2 separate regions of the Homo sapiens genome follow, and region 2 is linked to region 1. The links come from fine-mapping of genetic effects on gene expression. Tissue or cell type: whole blood. Region 1 holds a variant in brackets; the other region holds the start of a gene. All regions are shown on one strand. Distances are between the middles of the regions.

Region 1 (12,117 bases):
ATGTTTCTTTCTTTTACATACATACCTCTGATAAAGTTTAATTTGTAAATTAAGCACAGTAAGAGATTAACAATAACTAATAATACAATACAACAAATTATAATAATATAATAGCATTACTACTCTTGCAATTTGTGGCCATTATTAAATAAAATAAGAGTGACTTGAACACAAGCATTGAGATACCACAAATTATTCTGAGAACCGGCAGGGCTACTAAGTGACTAAGGGGTGGGCAGCATGTGGTTACATGCTAGACAAAGGAATGATAAGGGCCTTGGGCAGGATGGAGCAAGATGGCACAAGATTTTATCTCACTAGTCAAAATGGCATGCAATTTAAAGCTTATGAATTGTTTATTTCTGTAATTTTCCACTTAATATTTCTGGACTAAAGATGGTAGGTAACAAAACTCGGAAAGCAAAACCTCAGATAAGGGGGGACGACTTTATAAGGAACTCCTATAAATCAGATAAAGTACCCAAGAGAGACATTGACAAAAAGTATGAATAGCCAACTCTCAGAAGTGGAAAACCAAATGCCTAAGAAGGATTGAAGAGAAGTTCAGTGTCACTAGTAAACAGAAGAATGGAAATTAAAACTATTTGACATACCGCCTTACATTACACCCAATAGATTTATAAAAATTAGAAAGTTGGGAAATCTTGGCAATCTTGGCAAAGGTGTGGGAAACAAAAACCCTCATGTGCTGCTGCCGGGAGTGTACACAGATACAGGTATCCTAGAGAGCACTGTGGCAGTATCTCTGTGTGTGTGTGTGTGTGTGTGTGTGTGTGTGTGTGTGTGTGTGTGTATTTGTGCGCATGCGCACATGCACACACGTGCATGCTCACTGACAACCTACAATCCAGGAATCCCTCTCCACACAGGTTCATGAAGAAATACACACAAACATGTCTATCACAGGATTGTTTGTGGTACAAGAGAGTTCGGGGCAGTCTGGGAGTCCACCACTAGGGGCCACAGATATGTTAAGAGGATCAGATGATCATGACATGATCATGACACATAATATGGAATCTTATGCAGCAGTTAGAAGAAATGCGCTAGCTGTGCATAAAGGAACATGAATAGAGCTTAAAAACAGCATTGCATCAAAAAGCAAGAAACAGAATGAGAGCCATTGAACATTACAGATTTAACACATATATTCATAAAGCAGCATTATAGAAAAAACAACCTGGGGGTACACTCATATCCAAACACTTATTAATACATCAGAGTGACTGCCAGTGCTGGCAATCAAGGAGGAAAACAATGAAGTAAAATAAAACAAAAAGGTCCTCTCATGGATGATCACATACAGTGATCTGAGGAAGGCGATTAACTCAAATCTTTGCACTTTAAGTCCAAAAGAAGAAAAAAGGAAAGATCTAAATCCTATCTTCCTTTCTTGAAGCTTTTTCATCCCATAAATGAGATGCAACATCTGATTTTTGAGATAATCCATGTAAACATCTGTGCAACTAGCAACTCAAGGATCATCCATCTAGCTGGTTCTTCCGGGTCTCTGGGGACACTTGAGCAAAGCACACATCCATGAGATGCCAGAGGGTAGAAATAAAACAGAGTGAAGGATACCCTTGTAAACTCAATTCCATAAACCAAAGCCTAAATACGGCCTCATTTATGAAACTAGAAGTGCAGTGTAAAACCAAGAATAAAGAGATTGCAGTGTCAGATCAGTGACCCTAGCGTGGTTATTTCCATCAAACAAAATGGAAAGTTATCTAACAATGAAGCACAGAAAAGAGAAAACAAACAGGTAGCTCTGCGTCATCTGCAAAGACAATGTAGTTGGTAAAGTCAGATTATTTGGCATAATCAGGCAATATAAAATGTATATATGTACATATATATATATATATACAATTTTTAAAGTGAGTTGATCTTAGGATTTTGTTCACTTCAAATTGCTTTCAGCCAAACAGGAAACACAAAAGAGCCCGGTTTGATTCCAGAACTCTTCCTTTTTAAGGCTGCCAGGTCTGTCCTCTTGCAGGGAATGAAAGTGAACAAGGCTGAATATTTCTCTGTGTTTCTGAGAAGGGCTTGTCTGACCCAAGTCCTTGCACCTGCATGCACCACCTGTGGCATGAGTCTGTTGCCCTTTTTCAGTTTGTTCTTTCTTGTCTCCAACTGTCTGCCTAGACAGATGACTGCTGGTAATTCACATGTTTTTCCTTCTCCTTAGCTTTAATACTATAGCCACTCCACTTAAATTACACTCCAAGGTAAGCAGGAATTGGTTTTAAATGGAACCCTGAGAGATGGGGAAGTGAGGAAGGTGGGGGATGACTTCTTGATTCCTTGGTGCTGTATTATCACTTGATTCTTCCTCTGAGTTATCTTTTGTACTTAAAATTCCTTTATTTCGCCATTAAAGTGAGTGAGCCTATAAACTGTACTCACTCTGGATACTTAGGTATTTGAAAATGTTTTTGGCTACCATTTCATTTGGCTAGCATTTTATAGTGGACTCACCTACAGATTTAACTAAAAGTCTAAGATACCCTGTAGCAGCACATCAATTTAGGGAAAACTAGCTTTAAAATGTATAGAAACTTAAGAGTACATAACTTTAAAAGTATATAAAGACATACTACTAAACTAAAACGATCACAAAATCTTAGAATTTTGTAGGAGAAAAGAACCTTAGCAAGCACTGACCAGTTTTCAGCCTCTTTTTTTTTTTTCTGCCTCCATACTGCTTATATTTGCAAATTCTCAGTAACATGGCTTCTACTTAATGAGTCTCACCTGGGAGAACAAACATGCACTGTAGCTTGAAAAGATCACCTCTCTCTTTCCCCATGCCAAGTTTATTAGTTTTCAGAGACCATTTGTTGCTAATTGATGATAAAAGTAATATTGTGATTCATGACTTTCCCTGTTTTTTATCTACCAGCCTGTGCCTCACTTTGAACTGTGCGACATAAGACAGGACCGTGGCTGGGCACGGTGCCTTAAGCCAATAATCCCAGCACTTTGGCAGGCCAAGGCGGGCAGATCACGTGAGGTCGGGAGTTCAAGACCAGCCTGACCAACATGGAGAAACCCCATCTCTACTAAAAATACAAAATTAGCTGGGTGTGGTGGCACATGCCTGTAATCCCAGCTACTCAGGAGGCTGAGGCAGGAGAATCGCTTGAACCTGGGAGGCGGAGGTTGCAGTGAGCTGAGATGGAGCCATTACATGCCAGCCTGGGCAACAGAGCGAGACTCCATCTCAAAAAAATAAAAATAAAAAAAATTTAAAAGACAGGGCCATGAACACAAAACAACTGTGTCTCCATCTGCAGAGAAGCACTGAGTATCTGGACATTGTTTAGTGTCCTTTTTAACCTTATAATTAAATTCCACACTTCCCCTGCTATTGTTTAAAGTATTTAGCACTCAACCAAATGTATTTTTATTGGCTATTAGTACTAAAGTAGTTACTATCTTATCAAAAGCCTATTAACAAAAGCCAAGGCACAATTTTTTCCCATGCAGTCTCTGGCTTTGATTTTTTAAAAAAAATTTTTTAGACATATTCATGTAGAAAAGTTACAGAATACGGATGAATAGAAAAACAGTTTTTCTTAATCTCACCACCTAGAGAAAAGAGCATCTCCCATGTACACTTCTAGTCTTCATTTTCATCTTAAGAATATTTTACTTAAAAAATGTCACCCAAACAGACTTGTGTCTACAAAGGTGAGCTTCTGAGAAACCAACTTCCCTTGTGCAGCAGCAGACTCTGCTTTAGAGGGAAGGAAGCGGCTCACATCCTGACTAACAGGGGGTCATTGTTACTCTCTCAGAATTGGCATAATGCCTTCTTCTTCAGCCAGAAAGACAATTATGTGACAGAAAATCTAAGAGGTGGGCCTGCCTTAGGGAAAAGTGGCTTAAAAGCAAATTTGACTCACATAAAGAGAGTGCTAGGTATTTTCCTTGCTTGCTTTCTCTGTAATTGTTACAGCCCAGAAAGACATGGGTTTGAGTCCCAGTTATTCCTTACAAGCCAGGTAACCTTGGATAAGTTACTAAAGTCCCTCTCTGCTACAGTTTCCTCATTTGTTAAATAGGAACAATAATAGTACCAACTTGACTGAGTTCTTGCAAAGACCAGCAAGTTACGTAGGGGCCAAGGGAGAGCTTTCCTCGTGGCCCTCAGAAGGTTTGCTGAAAAACCAACTCAAAAAAGGTAGACTAATTGGAGAAAAGACATTCAAATTTATTTAACGGGAATACACAAGAGCCTTCAGAATGAAGACCAAAACACGCAGGGGAAATTGTCATTTTTATGCTTAGGTTCAACAAAGTATGGCCAGCTGTATAGGAACATGACTGGACAAAAAGGGTAAGATCTAATGGCCGGAGTGGGGAAACCCAGCAAGGCCTGTCCGTCTAGATTCTTCTTGGCGTCTCTGAGCACGCATTCCTTCCTTCTGGGTGTGGGACAGGACCCTCTCTGGAACCAGGGTCTTATGTCCTACAGTCAAATAAGGGAGGTCAGATAATTTCTTCATGGCCAGTTTTTATACAGAAAGGTGGAGGGAAAGTTAGAGTAAAATTGTAGGTTTTATGACTAGCTTTGGGTAAAGGGGTTCTGGTTTCTATGACCCACCTTCGGGAAGAGGGATTCTAGTTTCTGCGGCTGGCCTCAGTGGAGAAAGGATTAAGAGACAGGAGGGCAGGAGAAGGTCAAAGAAAAACTTCTGTTTCTGAGGTTGCTTTCTGAGGTCTTTGTTTTAGGGTATTGTTTTCCGAGCCCAAACAGTTCAACAGAGTTTTTAGTGCCTGGCCTGCAGTAGTAAAAAGGTTTCAACAAATGTCAGCAGCGTTACTGTGGTTGTGGATCAGTATGAGGATTATATGAGATACTCTATTTGAAACTCCTGCCACACTTAGGAATTAGTATTTCAATAATTAGCATTACAGGGAGGGTTTGTTCTTAACTACTCACCTTTTCACTTGGCCACACTCCCTGTTTTTTTCTTCTAGTCCACTGCTATCTGGTAGCAGTTTCTGTGATGATAAAAATGGTCAATTATCCGTGCTGTCCAACATGGTAGACGCTAGTCACATGTGGCTGTTGAGCTCTTGAAATGTGGCTAGTGCAACTTAGGAACTGAATTTTTCATTTCAATTTTAATTAATTTCAATAGTCCCACCTAGTCCCTTGATTTCTGTCTGCTCCTATCCCTGTCTAATCACCCATATTTCCTTTAGGCATAAAGTAGATTCATCTATAGGGACTTCGGTCAATCTCTACTCATTTACGCTAAGTTTTGAATAATGTTTTCTACATAGCACTTTATTGATAAATTATACATACAATCCTACCATTAAGAAATCAGAAACAGACCTGGCACAGTGGCTTATACCTGTAATCCCAACACTTTGGGAGGCCGAGGCAAGTGGATCTCTTGAGGTCAGGAGTTCAAGACCAGCCTGACCAACATGGTGAAACCCCGTCTCTAATAAAAATACAGAAAACTCCTATGGGCATGGTGGTGAGCGCCTGTAGTCCCAGTTACTTGGGAGGCTGAGGCACGAGAATCACTTGAACCTGGAAGGCGAAGGTTGCAATGAGCCAAGATCATGCCACTGCACTGCAGCCTGGGTGACAGAGTGTGACCTTGTCTCAAAAAAATTAAAATTAACAAAAAATTAAAAAAGACAAAAAAGAATTCAGAAACAAATTGGATGTATTTCCAGCATCAAGCTTCTCCACCAAGTCTGCCTTTCCTTTTATTAAGCACTTTGCAAATTTGAATGCAAGTAACTGAATAACCTTAAGAAAACCATTTGGCAGATTAGTTTAAAAGGCTGCGGCCAGGCGCAGTGGTTCAAGCCTGTAGTCCCAGCACTTTGGGAGCCTGAGGCGGGCGGATCACGAGGTCAGGAGATCAAGACCATCCTGGCTAACACGGTGAAACCCCATCTCTACTAAAAATACAAAAAAATTAGCCGGGCATGGTGGTGGGCGCCTGTAGTCCCAGCTACATTGGGAGGCTGAGGCAGGAGGATGGCGTGAACCCGGGAGGTGGAGCTTGCAGTGAGCCAAGATTG[C/A]GCCATGGCATTCCAGCCTGGGTGACAGAGCAAGACTCCATCTCAAAAAAAAAAAAAAAAAAAAAGGCTGCTTTACACATCTGGAATGGAAAGGGGGGTACTTCTGCTATCAAATGCCCTCCTTCACAAAATACAGCAGGATAATTGTTGATCTGCTTCAATCTGTGTCTCCCTGCTCCAATCCGTGTCTCTCTGTGGGCCCTTGCTCAGAGATGCCATGTGGTGTCTGAACTTGACCAGACTCCCTGAGGGCAGCCACCAGTTTCTTCAGAGGCAGCAGCTGTGGGATTGAGCCCCAGAAGTGAGTTTACACTCCCTTTTCCAGGGCTTAGGATCTCTGCTTCTCTTCCCTCTGTGATAAAGCCAATTTCAACTTCAGGGTCAGGTAATCACTTGACACGTCTATCAAGGAAAAGCAATAAAACCCTAAACAATTTTGCATTAGATCAGACTAGCTCTGTCTTCTCTCCCAGGGAAAGGCTGCCACCTGCTGTAAAACATCAGCACTGGGCTTTTCCAAGGTCACTGAACAACCACTTCCTCCCATACAAAATTAACGAAAGCACAACCACACTTGCCTTCACCTCTGCATGTCAAGAGTGTAAAGAGGAGGGCAAACCAGGAGGCACTGATGTAGAACAAGAGGCAAACTCATGCATATGAATAGTGCCCAGAAGGAACTGGCATAGCCATAACTCTGAATAAAAGAGCAGCCTCTCTTCAGCAATTAGCAACAAGGTATCACAAATTAGCTAATTCATAGTAACCTTTAGGAAATCTCCCATGACAGCCTCATTATTTCCTCCATCCTTCTAGTTCTGTGTACCTTTATGTATTCTCCACGCCCCTAGCAAGACAGGCAGGTGAAAGGATTTGATCATTTTCAGGACAGCATTCCTGAGCCTTGTTCCTGATTTCCTACAAAAATCCCAAATTGCAGCCGGGCGCAGTGGCCCATGCCTGTAATCCCAGCACTTTGGGAAGCCGAGGCAGGCGGATCACCTGAGGTCAGGAGTTTGAGACCACCCTGGCCAACATGGAGAAACCCCGTCTCTACTAAAAATACAAAAATTAGCCAGGTGTGGTGGCGCATGCCTGTAGGCCCAGCTACTTGGGAGGCTGAGGCAGAATTGCTTGAACCTGGGAGGTGGAGGTTGCAGTGAGCTGAGATCGCACCATTGCACTCCAGCCTGGGCAACAAGAGCGAAACTCCATCTTAAAAAAAAAAAAAAAAAAAATATTCCCAGGTTGCTCCTTGGGATTTTTGCAGGAGGCCAAAAATGGGAGCAGGCCTAGCACAGTGTCTATCTCATTGCATAAAAGCTTGAATTGTTTGTTTGTTCTGTCTTTGGTGGGGACAGTGTGCCCAAGAAAAGGAAGAACATTTCCCAAACTCAGAAAAAAGAAAGCAAAGGCATTTGGGACATGCCACCCCAAAATATGCTACTTTGGTATACTAATTATTTGAAGCTGAAGACACTTGAAAGACAGCAAATGCAGGGAGAGGCTTTCTCTGAACTCTCCCTTACCTGCCTGAAGACAGATCCTCCAAAATGAACTCAGTTGTCATTAATTCCCCTCTCTGGTAGGTTAATCAACCAGGAAGATTGACTATTACAACAGGACAGAAGATTAGAAGTGGACACCACTTCTATTACATCTATAATAGAATGTAAGAGTTTGCTACAAACGATTCCATCTCCCTAAGGGCTCATTCTTTCCCCCAAATTATTTACCCTCTCCTAAGTTGTCCATATCCCTCTTCTTCTTTCCCCTACGAAGACAGTATAAGCTCCCAAATCTCACCACTTTTTTGGGTATTCATTTTTTTTTCTCTTGTGATGCCCCATCCATGCAATAAATTTGTATACCTTTTCTCCGGTTAATCTGCGTATTGTCAGTTTGTTTCACAGACTCAAATTTTAAACCTAGGAGGGTAGAGGAAAAGTCTTTCCCTCCCCTGTAAAAGCAAGAATGAGGTGCTAGTATAGGGCCCATCATTTTATGCCCCAGAGCCTCCTCTTCCTTCTCCATTCTCCACTCCCACCCTGAGACCATTCACCATCCATCAGCTACTGTGGTCTACCCCCCAACACAACTTTTAAGAGTAGGTTTTGCTTACCATTATCTTCCTGCAAAGGGTACTCACGACTCTAAACTCCTCTCCCTGAATTGTGCCGTTGTATCTGGGAATTTATCAAACTTCAAGAATTCCTTAGGGATTCCAATGTTGAGTAAACTCAAATATAAACAAGCTGACATTTACAACTAAATATCCAATATCCAAAAAGTTTACAATATAAGAAAATAAGGCCAAACACCAATAACTTCTAAGCAAAAATAGCCGAAAGACAAATGCCTTGCTGCCTGGTTTTTAGCCTTGTAGAATCTGTGGCATTGTTATGGTTGATACAATTGTAAAATATCTGCAAAACATTTGCCAGCCTCTTGATGAAACTGAGTTATTTTCTTCACTGTAAACCACGGGAGAGCCCCAGATTGCCACTCCAACATCTCCTACCTGTATTCACAAACAGGAAGATGTAGGCTATGAAAGCAGGAAAGGACAAGAATATTTTTGTTGGTGTAAGAGAAGGCTTTTTAAAAGTTGCCTCAACAGCCAAAGAAATGAAATGAAGCCTTGTATTATCTGATCCTTCTACACATTTGTGTGTGTGTGTGTGTGTGTGTAGTTTTTCAAATAACTTTTTTTTTTTTGAGGTGGAATCTCACTCTTGTCACCCAGAGTGGAGTGCAATGGCGCGATCTCAGCTCACTGCAACCTCCGCCTTCCAGTTTCAAGCGATTCTCCTGCCTCAACCTCCCGAGTAGCTGGGATTACAGCCGCCTGCCACCACACCTGGCTAATTTTTGTATTTTTAATAGAGACAGGGTTTCACCATGTTGCCCAGGCTGGTCTCGAACTCCTGACCTTGTGATCCGCCCGCCTCGGCCTCCCAAAGTGTTGGGATTACAGGCATGAGCCACGGTGCCCAGCCTCAAGTAACTTTTAAGGCAACATTTTATTTAAAATTCTGCCTCTTTAACTTTCATTTTTTTTTTTTTTTGCTTCTATAGTTTTTTATTTGCATTCATTTAACACACAATTTTATAATTTACACATTTTTAATGTCTTGAATTATTCCTTTGAGTTGTTATATAAAAATTTACCTAGTTGTTGAAGTTTAGTTTCCTATGTTTTTCATTTTAGTTCATACTGAAATAAATATGTTTGTGGAAAGTGCTTTTCTCCTTACTGCAAGTTAATCTACAATCCATTACAGTGAAGAGCATGTGGCAATGCTCAGCAAATATTATAATTTTGTATAATAAATTATCAAGAATGAGAATATGGGGTAAAACAAACATTGAAACAATTCTGGTGTAAAAAAACAACATCTTGATACAGATTACTAAATAGCTTTCTAAAATAATTCTACTTATTTGCTATGTCAACAGATAAGTTGTTTAACACATTATTTCCATCGATACATCTTTTTAAATCTTATTCATTAAGAAGAGATTAAGGTATGACAAGAATACTGGTTAAATCAAAGGACATAGAGAGTATGAATGAATATGGAGAGTGTGGGTCACATTTTCAATTTTTTTTTTTTTTTTTTTTTTTTTGAGACACAGTTTCGCTCTTGTCTCCCAGGCTAGAGTGCAATGGTGCGATCTTGGCTCACTGCAACATCCACCTCCCAGATTCAAGTGATTCTCCTGCCTCAGCCTCCCAAGTAGCTGGGATTACAGGTGCCTGCCACCATGCCCAGCTAATTTTTGTATTTTTAGTAGAGATGGGTTTCGCCATGTTGGCCAGGATGCTCTCGAACTCCTGACCTCAGGTGATCCACCTGCCTTGGCCTCCCAAAGTGCTGGGATTATAGGCATGAGCCACCTTGCCCAGCCTCAACTGTTTTTAAAATCTTGACTATAGTTTAATTTTTCATTTAAGTCCGCATTCTAACTTGCAGGGCAGAACATGTAATGGGATCAGTTAACCATCCCAATTTGAACATCTTAAATCTTGGATCGGTTTTAGCCCAAAGGACCAAAGTGGGTTTGAATTTGTTATAAGGTGAATTTCCAGCTAGCAGGGAAGGACAAGAGGCCACAGAACTTGGCCATTCAAAGTGTGGTTTGCAGACCAGCTGCGCCAGCACCACCTGGAAGCTTGTTATTAGGTTGGTGCAAAAGTTATTGTGGTTTTTGCCATCAAAACCGCAATTACTTTTGCACCAGCCTAATAGAAATGCACAGTCTTGGGCTTCAGCCCAGAGCAACTGAATCTTAATCTGCATTTCAACAAGAGCTCCAGGTGCTTCTTATGCACATTGAGTTGGAGAAGCCACCTTCTAGACAGTGAAAATTGCTACTGCCAGTTGTCTAAGGGCTTTAGTAGAAAAGATAGTTCACCATGAATATTAAAACATGAATCTAAAGGTAACAAAAAACCTTCTATAATTTTAATTTGGCTGGTTCTTTTGAAAACATTCTTTATAGTATAGTTCGGCTTTTAAAAAAGTCAAATATAGGCCGGGTGCGGTGGCTCACGCCTGTAATCCCAGCACTTTGGGATGCTGAGGCAGGAGAATCGCTTGAACCTAGGAGTTAGAGGTTGCAGTGAACTGAGATCGCACCATTGCACTCCAGCTTGGGCAACAAGAATGAAACTCCGTCTCAAAAAAAAAAAAGTCAAATATATTATGGAGAGTTTTAATACAAGCTTCTTTTATTTAAACCATCCTAGCAGATAATGGATTATCTGATTTCTAAAACCAAGCTCCTCAGGACCTAGAAGAGAAAGCTTGGCAGATCAGGAACAAGAAAGTCTGGGGAAGGATGGGTATATGTGAATAGGCACAAAGTGGGCATGAAGATTACATGGTAATGCCTACCAGCAAGCACCATCTACCACCAAAGAGGCACTAAACAACCAGAAGTCAAAATGACACGGCTGGTTGACTTCAGCTAGCTTTCATCATCAGCATCTAGTGCTAATATGTTATATACAAACAGTGTACATGGCCGGGCATGGTCGCTCACGTCTGTAATCCCAGCACTTTGGGAGGCCAAGGCGGGCAGATCATTTGAGGTCAGGATTTTGGGACCAGCCTGACCAACATGGTGAAACCCCATCTCTACCGGAATACAAAAATTAGCCAGGCATGGTGGCAGGCACTTGTAATCTCAACTACTTGGGAGGCTGAGGCAGGAGAATTGATTGAATCCAGGTGACAGAGGTTGCAGTGAGCTGAGATCATGCCACTGCACTTCAGCCTGGGTGACAGAGCAAGACTCCCTTTCAATAATAATAATAAATAAAAATAAACAGCGTACCATCGTGGCAGAGTGCAGGGTATGAAAGGTCTTAAAAACATGGGCTCTTGGGAAGTCGAGGCTGCAGTGAGCTGTGATTGCACCACTACACTGTAGCCTGGATGACAGAGTGAGACCCTGTCTCAAAAAACAAACAAAAAAAGGGGCTCTCTATGGGGTCAGCTGAAACATTAGTTGAAACTGCACCACAGCCCAACTTCTGCCTCTGTCCAATTTTGCCTCTGCTCCATCCCTTCCACAGGTGTTAATCCCAAGAGCAACCCCTAATATGTTTTCTACATGATAATCTCCTTGGAGTCTATTTCTCAACTGACAATGCCAAGTGTTAATAATGATGTGGTACAATTGTTAACAACTGTTAACTCACATACACTGTTGGTGGGAATGTAACTTCGTATAACCATTTTAGAAAACTGAAAGAATCTACTAACACTGAATATAGGAATACCCATGATCTGGTGGTGCAACTCCTACAACAGAAATGCAGACATATGTGCAGCAAAATATTTGTTTAAGAATGATCATAGCAGCATTATTTTCTTTCTTTTATGCTTTTTTTTTTTTTTTTTTGAGATGTCCAGGCTGGAGTGCAATGGCTTGATCTCTGCCTCCCAGGTTCAAGCCATTCTTCTGTCTTAGCCTCCTGAGTAGCTGGGATTACAGGTGTGCACCACCACACCCTGCTAATTA
Region 2 (12,117 bases), 33 kb after region 1:
CCTCAGTCAAGCTTTCAGATGACAATACAGGCTGATGGATGCTTTGATTGCAGCCTTGTGAAACCTTAAGCAAAGTTAAGTTGTGCTGAGACTCCTGACTCAAGAAACCATGACATAATAAACGTGTGTTGCTTTAAATTGCTAAATTGGCGATAATTTGTACATACCAATAGAAAACTAATATACCATAGTATCTTGGTTTTTCCCTATGCTTGGGGTGCAGTAAATTCTTAGTAGATTACAGCTGCTATTATTATAATAATCAAAATGGAAATCTGAAATATCGAGGTCAAGAAAAAAGTTAACAGAGAAATTTAACAGAGTTAAATAATTGCTTCCAAAGTAACCAAGCGGCTGGTGTAGAAGACAAAAAGATGATATGTTGAAGACTTGTATATTACTCCCAACAAGTATTGAGTACATTATCATCACCACATAAAATATTATAAATTTTCTAGTGGTGCTTATATCTACATTTAGCTTTAATATCTTACACCATACTCAAAGTAAACTGGAAAGTTTTCCTACATTAAGATAGTCCTATATTACCTATGAAGAAATATCAAAACACAGTTTCAGGTTAGAGTCATATTGTTATAAATTATCATTTATATTTTTATATACTATATATTAGCTGTATCAAAAATTGTAAAATTTTTTAAATTATAAAAACACATATAATTATATATTTATATATATAACATTTAAGAATAGCTCAAATATGATGCATAAAATAATTCAGGACATTATTGGATCCAAACCCTAATGAAACAATTACCAGCTTGACACCTTCAGTTCATTAGTGCATGTAAATCTTGCTTATCAAAGATAGCTTATTTATACTAAACACACAATATAATTACACATATTTAGCTGTAGAGTAGGTTAAGAATGTGGATGGGTTTCCATTGCATAGATTCAAGGTTTGCTATCACAGAAAAAAGAAGCTAGTGCTTCTATCTTACTAAATTGGAAAATTATTTTTCTCATTGTTCATTCTATCAGTGCCCCCTTTCCCCTCTGTATTTATATAGCACGGGAATGTATAGTTTCTATCAAATAAATCATTAGAAAGGCAATGTTCAGGCCGGACATGGTGGCTCACGCCTGTAATCCCAGCACTTGGGGAGGCCGAGGCGGGCAGATCGTGAGGTCAGGAGATCACGACCATCCTGGCTAACACGGTGAAACCCCGTCTCTACTAAAAATACAAAAAATTAGCCAGGCGTGGAGGCGGGCGCCTGTAGTCCCAGCTATATTGGGAGGCTGAGGCAGGAGAATGGTATGAACCTGGGAGGTGGAGCTTGCAGTGAGTCGAGATCGTGCCACTGCACTCTAGCCTGGGTGACAGAGCAAGACTCCATCTCAAAAAAAAAAAAAAGAAAGGCAGTGTTCAGTGATTGAGTAGCTATGTTAACCTTACTACTGCCACCTATACAAATATGCACAGAATACACAGTAAACATAAACATAGCCCTTTTATAGGTGTTATGGCATTAGAAAATTTGCCATTCTCCCTCTAATTAGAACATATAACCTTGATGGACTATCACTTTTCATGTGATTGGTCGGTAACAGATATAATAAATATGCCAAATACAGTGTTAGTGACATGGTAGCTAAATATTTTCTTCCTGATTCCTTTTTTTGAAGGCAATGATGGAATCTTAACTCCTATCCATTTCTTAATTTTGTATTAATTTCTTAATTTTCTATCATCTGTGCTTTCTGGAAATGTACACTAATAATATATCTATACCTATTTATTTGTGATTTGGCTTTTAGCTCTCATACTGACTGAAATGATTCAAGTGATAGCAAGTGAACATAGTAATTAATTTGAAATTTATCTAGGTTTAAATGAAATTGCTTGCCCAGTTTACACACTTTAAAAAAATTTTTGCAAACCTGATCATCAGCATTTACTTTCCTGTTTAGATTCAAGATTATGAATTGTTCTGTGGAAAAGTAAAAGTAAAAGTAAACATTGAGCTGGATCTCTGAAAGAACTAAGCACGACACTCAATGTGTATTTTCTTCCTATGGTATGTTATCAACAGATGGATAATGAGGAAGCAAACCAGACTGTCTTGTTCTAGTGTCTGGGAGACAACTGACGGCTATCATTTAGTCCAAGTGCCAAGTTGGAATCTTTTCTGGAACAAGGTGGGGTATAAACACAAATATTTTTTTAAAGGCCAAACCAGCCAGGCTTAAGGAAGTTTTTGAACTGTTGTTGACTTCCTGAGGGGGGTCAAAATATAAGAATTTGCTAAATCCAATTCCTAGCATAATCTATGAACTGATTCTAGACATAAAGAAAAATTATTTTCCTTTCTGGCCTTAGATAAAACTTGGTTAATCCTCTTGTTAATATTTTCACAGTATAAACACATCTTTTTTAATAAAAAATTTTTAAACTGACAAATAATAATTATATATATTTATAGGATCCAATGTGATGTTTTGATATATGTACACACTGTGGAATAACTAAACCAAGCTAATTAACATATCTTTCACCTCACCTACTTTTTTTTTTTTTTTTAAGAGATGGTGTCTGGCTATGTTGTCCAGGCTGGACTCAAACTGCTAGTTTCAAGGCATCCTTCCACTTCAGCTGAGACTACAAGTGTGGGCCACTGTACCCAGCTTATTTTTTTTATGGTGAGAACATTTAAAATGTACTCTTGGCTGGGCGTGGTGGCTCATGCCTGTAATCCCAGCACTTTGGGAGGCTGAGGCAGGTGGATCACGAGGTCAAGAGTTTGGAGACCAGCCTGGCAAATATGGTGAAACCCCGTCTCTACTAAAAATACAAAAATTAGCTGGGCGTGGTGGTGCGCGCCTGTAGTCCCAGCGGCTCGGGAGGCTGAGGCAGGAGAATTGCTTCAACCTGGGAGGCAGAGGTTGCAGTGAGCCAAGATCATGCCACTGCACTCTGGCCTGGGCAACAGAGCCAGACACAGTCTCAACAAAACAAAACAAAGAAAGTACTCTTTTAGCTATTCTGGAATATTAAATACATTGTTATTAACTGTGGTCATCGTGCTGTGCAATAGATCACTAAAATTTATTCCTCCTACCTGAAACTTTATACCCTTTGACTCACATTTCCCCTTTCCTCATCACCCTTTACCCCCCAGTCTTTGGTAACCACCATTCTACTCTGCTTCTATGTAAACTCATCTGGTTTTATAAGTGATCAGGGATTTAAGAGGACTTCACTCTTTTACAGTTAAATTTATTTCATATTGGGGAATGATTTTCTCACTTTGTTTCTTACATAATTTTAGAGGATTGAACTTAGAAAAATATAATGTAAGAGTTTTCTCTCAACTATTTTTGATGCTTCCTTACTTTTTGTCCTCTTTCCCCAACTTTAGCTCTTTGGTGGGGAAAATATTATTTCATAAAAGTTATGTTTGCAGTTTTCAAAGTGACTTCTTAGAAGTGAAACTTGGATCAACATTTTTTTCAACCCCCCAACTATAAGAGTTACATTTTCACTTTTGATTTGTTAAAACATACTATGTCTTATAAATGCTTGAAATTTATTTTTAGGCAAGAATTTCAACATTGAATAAAATCTTCCCAAAATTAAGTCACAAGCACTCAAAGGATTGAGGATCTTTTTCTTCCTAAAATATATGTGTGTGTGTGTGTGTGTGTGTGTCTTTATATTTATATACTAAGACCTTCCCTTTCTTGTGGACTGTGTTTTATTGGTTTAAAGTTGCAAGTCCTGTGAAACCAGGCTGAAGTCAGAATTAGAAGGTATTAATTATCATACACACTCCAAGTATCTCAGTCAAGTAACAGGAATAACTGATTACAGTGTCTGGGAGGAAGGCCTGGAACTTGGGGAAGACTTGGAGGGGAGGACTGGATGGGGAAAAGGCCTCAATAGAGAGAACTGGGTTGTTGCGGAGGGGTGACCTTTAACCTTTGGAAGGGCATTTACTAGGGAACAGCTGAAAAGCATTTACTTCGAGGGGGTGGGGGAGAGGAGGAATCTCGTGGAAGTATTTGCTTTAATAGGTCCCGGGTGATTTAGGGATGTTTCGAGTCGGTTGGTCTTGGGGGTGGCGAGGGCTACGCTGGAGGGGTCGCGTCCCAGTCCCGGGGAAGGCGGCAGGAGGTTTTCTGGGTGTTCCTGAAAACTGGGAGTTGGGGGGAAGGGTGGTGGGGAAAGTGGAATTCAGCGTGGATTTGTCTGCGTGTAGGACTATTAGAGGAGGCGCAGGGGAGCCACGCGGTGTATTCCCCGCCCCGAGAGAACTCTGGCTGCGCCTGCGACGGGCACGCCGGCCTGCGCCAAGGCCGCTTTCCCCAGGCGGCGGGCGCTCCCCCCGGCCCGGGCCGCGGCCCTCCCGCCCCGGCGGAGCCGCGCGGTGGATTGTGGGCTGGGGGCTGCGGCGGCCTCCGGCGCTGTCTCCCCGCACCCGACCGGGCCGAGCCGGCTGGGCCGGCGGGGTGAGGGAAAGCAGTGGAGTCGGGAGCAGAAGCGCTAGAGGCAGTGGTCGTGGCGCGGCGGCGGCGGCTCCCCTGGAGGCCGGGGATGTGGGAGAGGCGGTGGCAGCAGCGGCGGAGGCGGCGCTGCGGACCCGGGGGAAACTGCTGGCTGACAGGACACCCGGGAGAGACGTGAGGGAGCCGCCGCTGCCACCTCTCACCCCTGAGTGAAGCTGGGCTCGAGAGGGCGGCCCTGTGCTCCCCGGGCCGACTGGCCAGCGGGCGCGGGGCGGGGGCGGGAACCCGGGCTCGGGCCCGGCCGGGCGCCGGGCGGCGGCGGCCGTGGAGCAGCAGCCTCGGTGCGACGTGGAGGGCTGGAGGCGGCGGCGATGCACTAGGCCTCGCTCAGGGCGGCTGCCCCGGGACCCGCAGGTAGGTGTGCCCCGCGGCCCCCCGCGCGTCTCAGCCCACTCTCACCCCGACCTACAGCGGAGAGAGGGACCGAGACCCCACCCCCTCGGCTCTCCTCCCCAGCCCCAAACGGACCGAGTTTCGGTCACAGCTGACCGGCACTGAAGCTTCCATGCTCCTCTCCGCCACTTCCTTTTTTTTTTTTTTTTTTCCTTTTCACTCTCCCTCCGGGATCGGGGCTGGCAGCTGTGTTCCCTGCCTCCTGTCAGCGACCGCAAACGCCGCTCTTGCCCCTCTCTTATCTTTCCGGGATCCCAGCTCTGGAACTTCCATCACCCCCTTAGACGCTGCCCCCAAACTTTCCTTTTCTTTTTCCAGCCAGGCCCTTAGTCCTATTGGATTCTACTGGAATCGTTAAAACATTTGTTTGTTTTTCTCTCCGGGGAAGGCTAACCCAAAGAGTTACTCAGTATTTTGCATTTTGGCAATGTAGCTTGAAATAATTTGTGCAATAATTTTCTTCAGTTCTGCCTCCTTCCATCTCTGCATAGACAGAAAGGGCAGGCCCTCTCTGCCGTTTCTGCTCTCCCGTCGTTGACTTGGGAACTTTGGCTTGCCAATTATAATTAGCCGTTTGGTCTGTTCATGTGTTGAGTTCAAGATGGTATTTTTAGCATTTTGACTGACAGGCGTTTCAAAAAAAAATTTTTTTCTTCTAACCAGCTTTATTTTTTGGTCTTTATTGAGGCTCTTTCGAAGAATTAAATTGTTTGGACTGTTTTTGTTTTTAATTGGCTGTATTTCTGATTTGTCAAATCAAGGGCGGTCTTAATACTAAACGCCTTTAAGTAATACCGTGATAAATTACTTGTAGTATACCGAGAAATATTACTGCGATAACCTAAACTGCAGATTTTGATGTACATTCACTTTTATAAATCCGAAGGGGAGTTCTAATTGGAAAAAGCACCTTCAGAGCCTAAATGATTTCTAAGCAGTTAAATGATGGAACAGAGGGAATGATGGGATTTGTTTGACTGTATTTGTAGTGTAGTCAGAATCGGATTTCCTAGAAATGGATGTTGATGGTTCGTAGTGCTCATCATTGCTTATGATAGGTTACCAGTAGCTGTAATTGATAGTTGTTTGGGACGACAGTAGATGTTTGCGATTTTATTGTAATTTGGCTATTTTTAAATTATGTTCTGATAACTTAAGAATTATTACACTACCAATCTAAGAGGCAGTCTGAGGATCACTTTTTTAAATAAATGAAAAATGTTTTAATGGGTTTTTAAAATAAAGAATGCATCACAACCAAATCGTAAAGACTGTTTTGTTGTTGATATTCGTATATTTTGTTCTTGTAGAAGTATTGTTACTACAGCATTTGGCTTTCTGAAGTGTTTTTGAAATTAGAATTTAATACTAAAAGTTTACTAGGAAAAGGTGATTACTTTTGCATATGCTTATATTTTCTGGAAAGTTAAAATTGATTTCTGGATAAGATAATTTTTTGTGTCAGAATTAAAGTCAATTCCTATATAGCCCATGAAACGGCAAATTTTGCAGAATTTCTTCATCACACTCTTTTTTTTTGTTTCTTTTCTTTTTTTTTTTTTGAGACGGGGTCTTGCTCTGTTGCCCAGGCTGGAGTGCAGTGGCGCTATCTTGGCTCACCGCAACCTCCGCCTACCGGCTTCAAGTGATTCTTCTGCCTCAGTCTCCTGAGTAGCTGGGACTACAGGCGCCCCCACGCCTGGCTGATTTTTGTATTTTTAGTAGAGACGGGGGTTTCACCATATTAGCCAGGCTGGTCTTGAACTCCTGACCTTGTGATCCACCGGCCTCGGCCTCCCAGAGTGCTGGGATTAGAGGTGTGAGCCACCGCCCCGGCCCCGGCCCATCACACTCTTTTTTTTTTTTTTTTTTTTTTTAATCAACAAAAGTTAATTACAATTCCTCTTTCCTGCTCTTTGCTTTTTAAAAACTGCTTTATTGAGATAAAATTAACATACCATAAAATACACCCATTTAAGGTGTACCACTTGGCCGGGTTCAGTGGCTCACACCTGTAATCCCACCACTTTGGGAAGCCTAGTCAGGTAGATCACCTGAGGTCCAGAGTTCGAGACCAGCCTAGCCAACATGGTGAAACCCCGTCTGTACTAAAAATATATAAATTAGCCGGGCATGGGGGTGAGCGCCTGTCATCCCAGCTACTGGGGAGGCTGAGGCTGGCGAATCGCTTGAACCTGGGAGGTGGAGGTTGCAGTGAGCCAAGATAGCACCACTGCACTACAGGCTGGGTGACAGAACGAGACTCCATCTCAAAAAAAAAAAAAAAATATACAATTCAGTGGTTTTTAGATTAAATAATTGTGCAACCATCACCATAATCTAATTTTAGAACATTTTCATCATTCCCTCAAAAAACCTTTATCCATTAACAGTTACTCCCCATTCTCTTCACCCCACCCCCAGCTTTAGGCAACCACTAGTCTACTTTCTGTCTCAATATTGGCCTAATGTGGGCCTTTCATATAATGCTTCTTGGCTCATAGCTTCTTGAAAAGCTTTTCCTTTAAAATCAGTGTACATGTTAAAATTTTTTATTTGAGCTAGGGAATAAGCAACTGATCACCAATATTAAAAGTGATGTTGTAAATAACTGATACACTTTTTGGTTGTATTCAGCATAAAGTTGGAGAAGGCATGAATGGCTTCAGTAACCTCAAGAGGTAGTTTGGTCAGCTCGGAATCAATAAGTAAAAGTGGGCATTTTTGTCATTGAATATTAGAATATCAGGGAAAAGATCTTAAAGGTCATCAGCTTACTTCCTGCTTACCTCGCTATTAGTTGGCAGCAACCAGATGAGGAAACATGGAGATTAGAAGCTTGAATCTCTAGGATGTGTGGCTCAAGAACCACAGCGTGGCCATGTAAAGCAAGAAATGGGACTTTGGAAGTTAGAATTGTTTAGATTCTTGTATATATGTATGTATTTGACATTTTGCTAGCAGAGCTGAGAAAGAACTGGACATTCCCCCAACTTTGGGGGAAAAGTGGGTGACTATATGTAGCTACATTGATGAAACCCATGTTACAAAATCCTCTAAAAATGCTTTAACCTAAGGAAGGGTAGCAAATGTATTATTTAGATATCTTCTTATACTATTAATGTCTTATTTTTTTAAATCCAAATTTTAAAAAAATATAATTAACAGGGCCAGTTGGAGGTTTCCTTTTTCAAATATCCAGTGCCCTAACATCTAAAACAATGGCTCTGCGAGGACGGTTTTGACTCCAAGGGAAATTTGGCAGTGTCTAGAGACATTTTTGGTTGTCATAGCTGAAGGAAATGGTATTGGCCAAGGATGTTGCTAAATACCCTACAATGCACAGGACATACTTCTGCAAGAAATTATCCGGTTCAAAATGTCAATGGTACCATTGTAAACCTAGGGGCTGCACGATTTCTGGTAAGGACCTAGTGTTTTTGATTCCTACCAGGTGGGAGAATAGTCTCAGTGGGCGATGTTTGGTGAATTAGATTAACACCTTAGATCCTCTAGCAACTAACTCTATTTCTTTGCAAGAGGAGGAATTGAGGGAAAAATAAAAGGAAATCTGTTTACGACATGACGCAGATACTGTTTCGTATGTTTAGGTTGTCTTCAAATCTGAAAAAAGAACCCCTTTTTTTCTAAAAACAGACTTAATTTACTGCAAATTTGGACTACTATTGTTTTGAATTGTTATTTTTGCATATGTTTTTGAAATTGTAAATAGAATATAGTCATATCTTTTTTATCCAGAAGTGATTTTTTTTTTTCCTGGCAGCTTCAACTACCAAGAAAGGAGAAGTAAGCTAAGTGTTTAACTTTATGGATAACACTTATGTTATATATGTATGTATAACACTTATGTTATGTATGTATGTATGTATGTTGTGAATGTCCAGAAAAATTCCAAGCTTATAATGAATCTTTTTTTCCCCTATGAGCTCCACTTTAGACTATTTAATGTTTTTAACAAGCTTAATTTGTTGATGAAAGAAGGTAATTGACAGTTGAGATCACTTTTGCTATTTATCATCCATACCTTATGGATAAGTTACTCAAGTTATTCTTTCTGAGCCTCAGTTTTCTCATCTATAAAATAGGGGTAGTGATAATCCATGTATTACAAGGCTATTGTAAGAATTATTAAATGAGGTAATATGTATTAAGATGCAGTGTCAACTATAATATACTGTAGAAGAGTTATTCGCTTCAGAAGAATCAAATTAGGAAGGAATATAGAGGTTGTCAAAGGCAGGAATGTAGATAGTAAGGCGGAGAATAGTGATGGCTGACAGCCTCTCTAGGGAGGAGAGAAGCACTAAATACAAATATTGATAACAAACTAGTAAAATAACTAGTATATCACTATAATCTGAAACTCCTTAATATAGGGGCAAACTGACTTCCTTCTGTAGCACCTGAGAGTATCACCGTTATAGCACAGTAAAATAACTGATTATTATAATGGTGAAATTAACTTATTAAGAAAAGATTACCTTGTTTTCAAATATGCTATTTGAGAAGACTTGAAAATATATATATTTTACTTCAGAGTTAAAATTTTTGGAAGTGACTTATTCAAAAAGTTTTAGTGTTTTTAAGAGTATGCTGTCGTTATTTGGATTAATTCCCTTTTGGGGAATAATCCTTTTGTCTTCATTTACTATGCCTGCCTTCCTGTGTATTTGAAGGGTTTTTCTATTATCTGAAGGTAATTATTCTTCAGATGTGAGAATTTAACTGAAGAAATAGGGGTTGTAAGCCTGCTCACCATTTGTAAAATCTCATTTCCTTCTAGATTTCTTTTAAAATTATTTTTCATCTTTCTGGCGTGTCACTACGCCCAGCAAATTTTTGTATTTTAAGTGGAGACAGGGTTTCGCCATGTTGGTCAGACTGGTCTCGAACTCCTGACCTTGTGATCTACCTGCCTCGGCCTTCCAAAGTGTTGGGATTACAGGTGTGAGCCACCGCGCCTGGCTGGTTTCTTAAAATTTTGTTAACTGGTCACCTTTCTTTCAGAATCATATAAAAATAAGGGTAGAGGTGGTCAAAGGCCCAGCTATTCAGTAAGATTTTTATGGGGTAATTTGAGGGTGGAATAGTTGCAGACAATATTCAGAATAAGTAATGTGGTATTGATTGGTATTATATATGATATATATATATCTCTCTATATGATATATATATCTCTATATATGTGATATATATCAATATATAGATATATATATCAATATATATCTATATATTGATATATATTTATATATAAATGCTGATATATATCATATGATATATATTGATATATATTTATATATAAATGCTGATATATATATCATATATATATATCAGCATTTACTTAATAACATTATTTGATGTATACTCTATACTTAAATCTTCCCATTTGTCCCAAAAATCTTTATAGCTTTTTCCCCCCTCAAATGCAGGATTCATTCAAGGTTAATGCATTGCATTTGGCTGGTATGTCTCTTTAAGTCTCCCCCAATCTGGACTAGTCCTACCGCCTTCCTCTCTTCTTTAGGTTTATCCATTGAGAAGTAGAGACCATATGTCCTGGAGCATGTTCCACATTCTGAATTGGTCTGTTCCTCATGATTAGATTCTAGTCAGACATTTCTGGTGAGACCATCACACAGATGATGTGTATTTCTGCTGTATTACATCAGGAGGCACATGATTTCAGGCTATCACTATATCGGTAATGCAAGTTTGATCACTTGGTAAAGGTGAACTGACAGATCTCTCTACTGTTTAATAAATAATTTATAGAGGATACTTAATAGCCATGTAAATATCCTATTCCCTGACAACCCTTTAACCAGTGATTTTGGTACCCATTAATGATCCTTGCTTGAATCAGTCATTATGTTGGAGGATTACAAATGGTAACTTTTCTTTTTGCATTCCTTCTACTTTTATTACCTTCTTTGACTTTTTCAGGGCATTGAGGTCAGGTTAGATAAATTCTGAATATAGGCCACGGAATGTAGAAATCAGGTCATTCCTAACCTTTTCTGGAGCCAAGTAAATGGTGAAGATGGAAGACAGCTAAGGAAGTAGACCAAAAAGAGAACGGAGGTTTGCCAATGAAGGGGAGGTGAGAAGTAGTAGCTGGAGGAGGCAGGGAGGAGGGAAAGGGCCTTCATTTGGTGCTTGAAATTTTCTTTTCTTTTTTTTTTTTTTGATGGGCCGATGAAGAGATTAAAGATAGAATTGGGGAATAACTAATAGAAAAAGGTCCCAGATGAAGCAGGAAGAGGTAAGATCAAAAACAGCTGTTGGGGGATTAACTCTGGAAAAGAGTAGACACCTATACTCTATCTCAGAAAGTTAAGAGTTGTGTATAGATGAGAATTAGGTACATTTGGATATGAACGGAAAAAACTACATCTGGGGACTTTTTTTTTTTTTTTTTTTTTAAACAGTTACTTTTTGAGCCTTGCGTTGTTGGAAGTAGGCTAGGGGACTTGAGGAGAGTGATGAAAATGTTCCACATATTGTGGGGAATGGAGAAGAGAAGTGTTTCAAGATAAATAAGTGAAAGAATTGCTGAGCAGCATCAGAGGCTCATCTGAGATTGGAACTCATAAATTTGTAATCAGCATATTTTACTGTTTTTTCTGGCAGTGTTCTGCAAGCAGGAGAAAAGCAAAGACACACTGTATTGAAGGTGGATGAGGGAGGAGAGATGCAAGGGAGATGAAGTAATGGGGATGTAGGCTAAGTAATGAAGTTAGTAAAGTAGAGCAGGGCTAAGATAGCCAACCAGTGGTGAGAGATGCAAGGGTAATGCCAAGGAGTGATTAATTAAAATACTAATTTATTGTTTGTTTGAGGTTATAGTAATCATAAACCCTGTATTTACTTTTCCCTTAAACTAACATTTAATATTTTTATTTGTAAACTATTTACTGACTTATTGCAGATGTTTCTTAGCTATTTTGCTTTATTTTCCCTAAAATGAAAATTCCTTGAAAGCATCATCTTTGTTACTTAATAAGTATCTAATAGTTTATATATTTGAGACATATTTATTCTTCAGTACCTCTGAATGAGAGATTTTAAGATTATCTTGCTAATATTTTTGGCTGGGACACCAAGAAGAGAATACCAGTGTCTAATATGGTTCATTTTGACTGACAAAAATTTCACTAGTAATACAATCGT

Evidence for each region.
Region 2: VPS54 starts here. The variant in region 1 is fine-mapped to the expression of VPS54 in whole blood (TOPMed, PIP 0.97).

Annotation. Positions count from the first base shown.
Region 1 is chr2:64,044,343-64,056,459 of GRCh38, reverse strand. No RefSeq gene overlaps it. Among named protein-coding and RNA genes, the nearest start is that of VPS54, 31 kb to the right of the region's middle. The variant C/A (reference allele first, on the strand shown) is at 6,085.
Region 2 is chr2:64,011,708-64,023,824 of GRCh38, reverse strand. VPS54 (VPS54 subunit of GARP complex) reads left to right here and starts at 4,397. Exons shown (of 23, transcript NM_016516.3): 1 at 4,397-4,887. RefSeq lists a silencer at 4,274-4,983 and an enhancer at 5,144-5,213.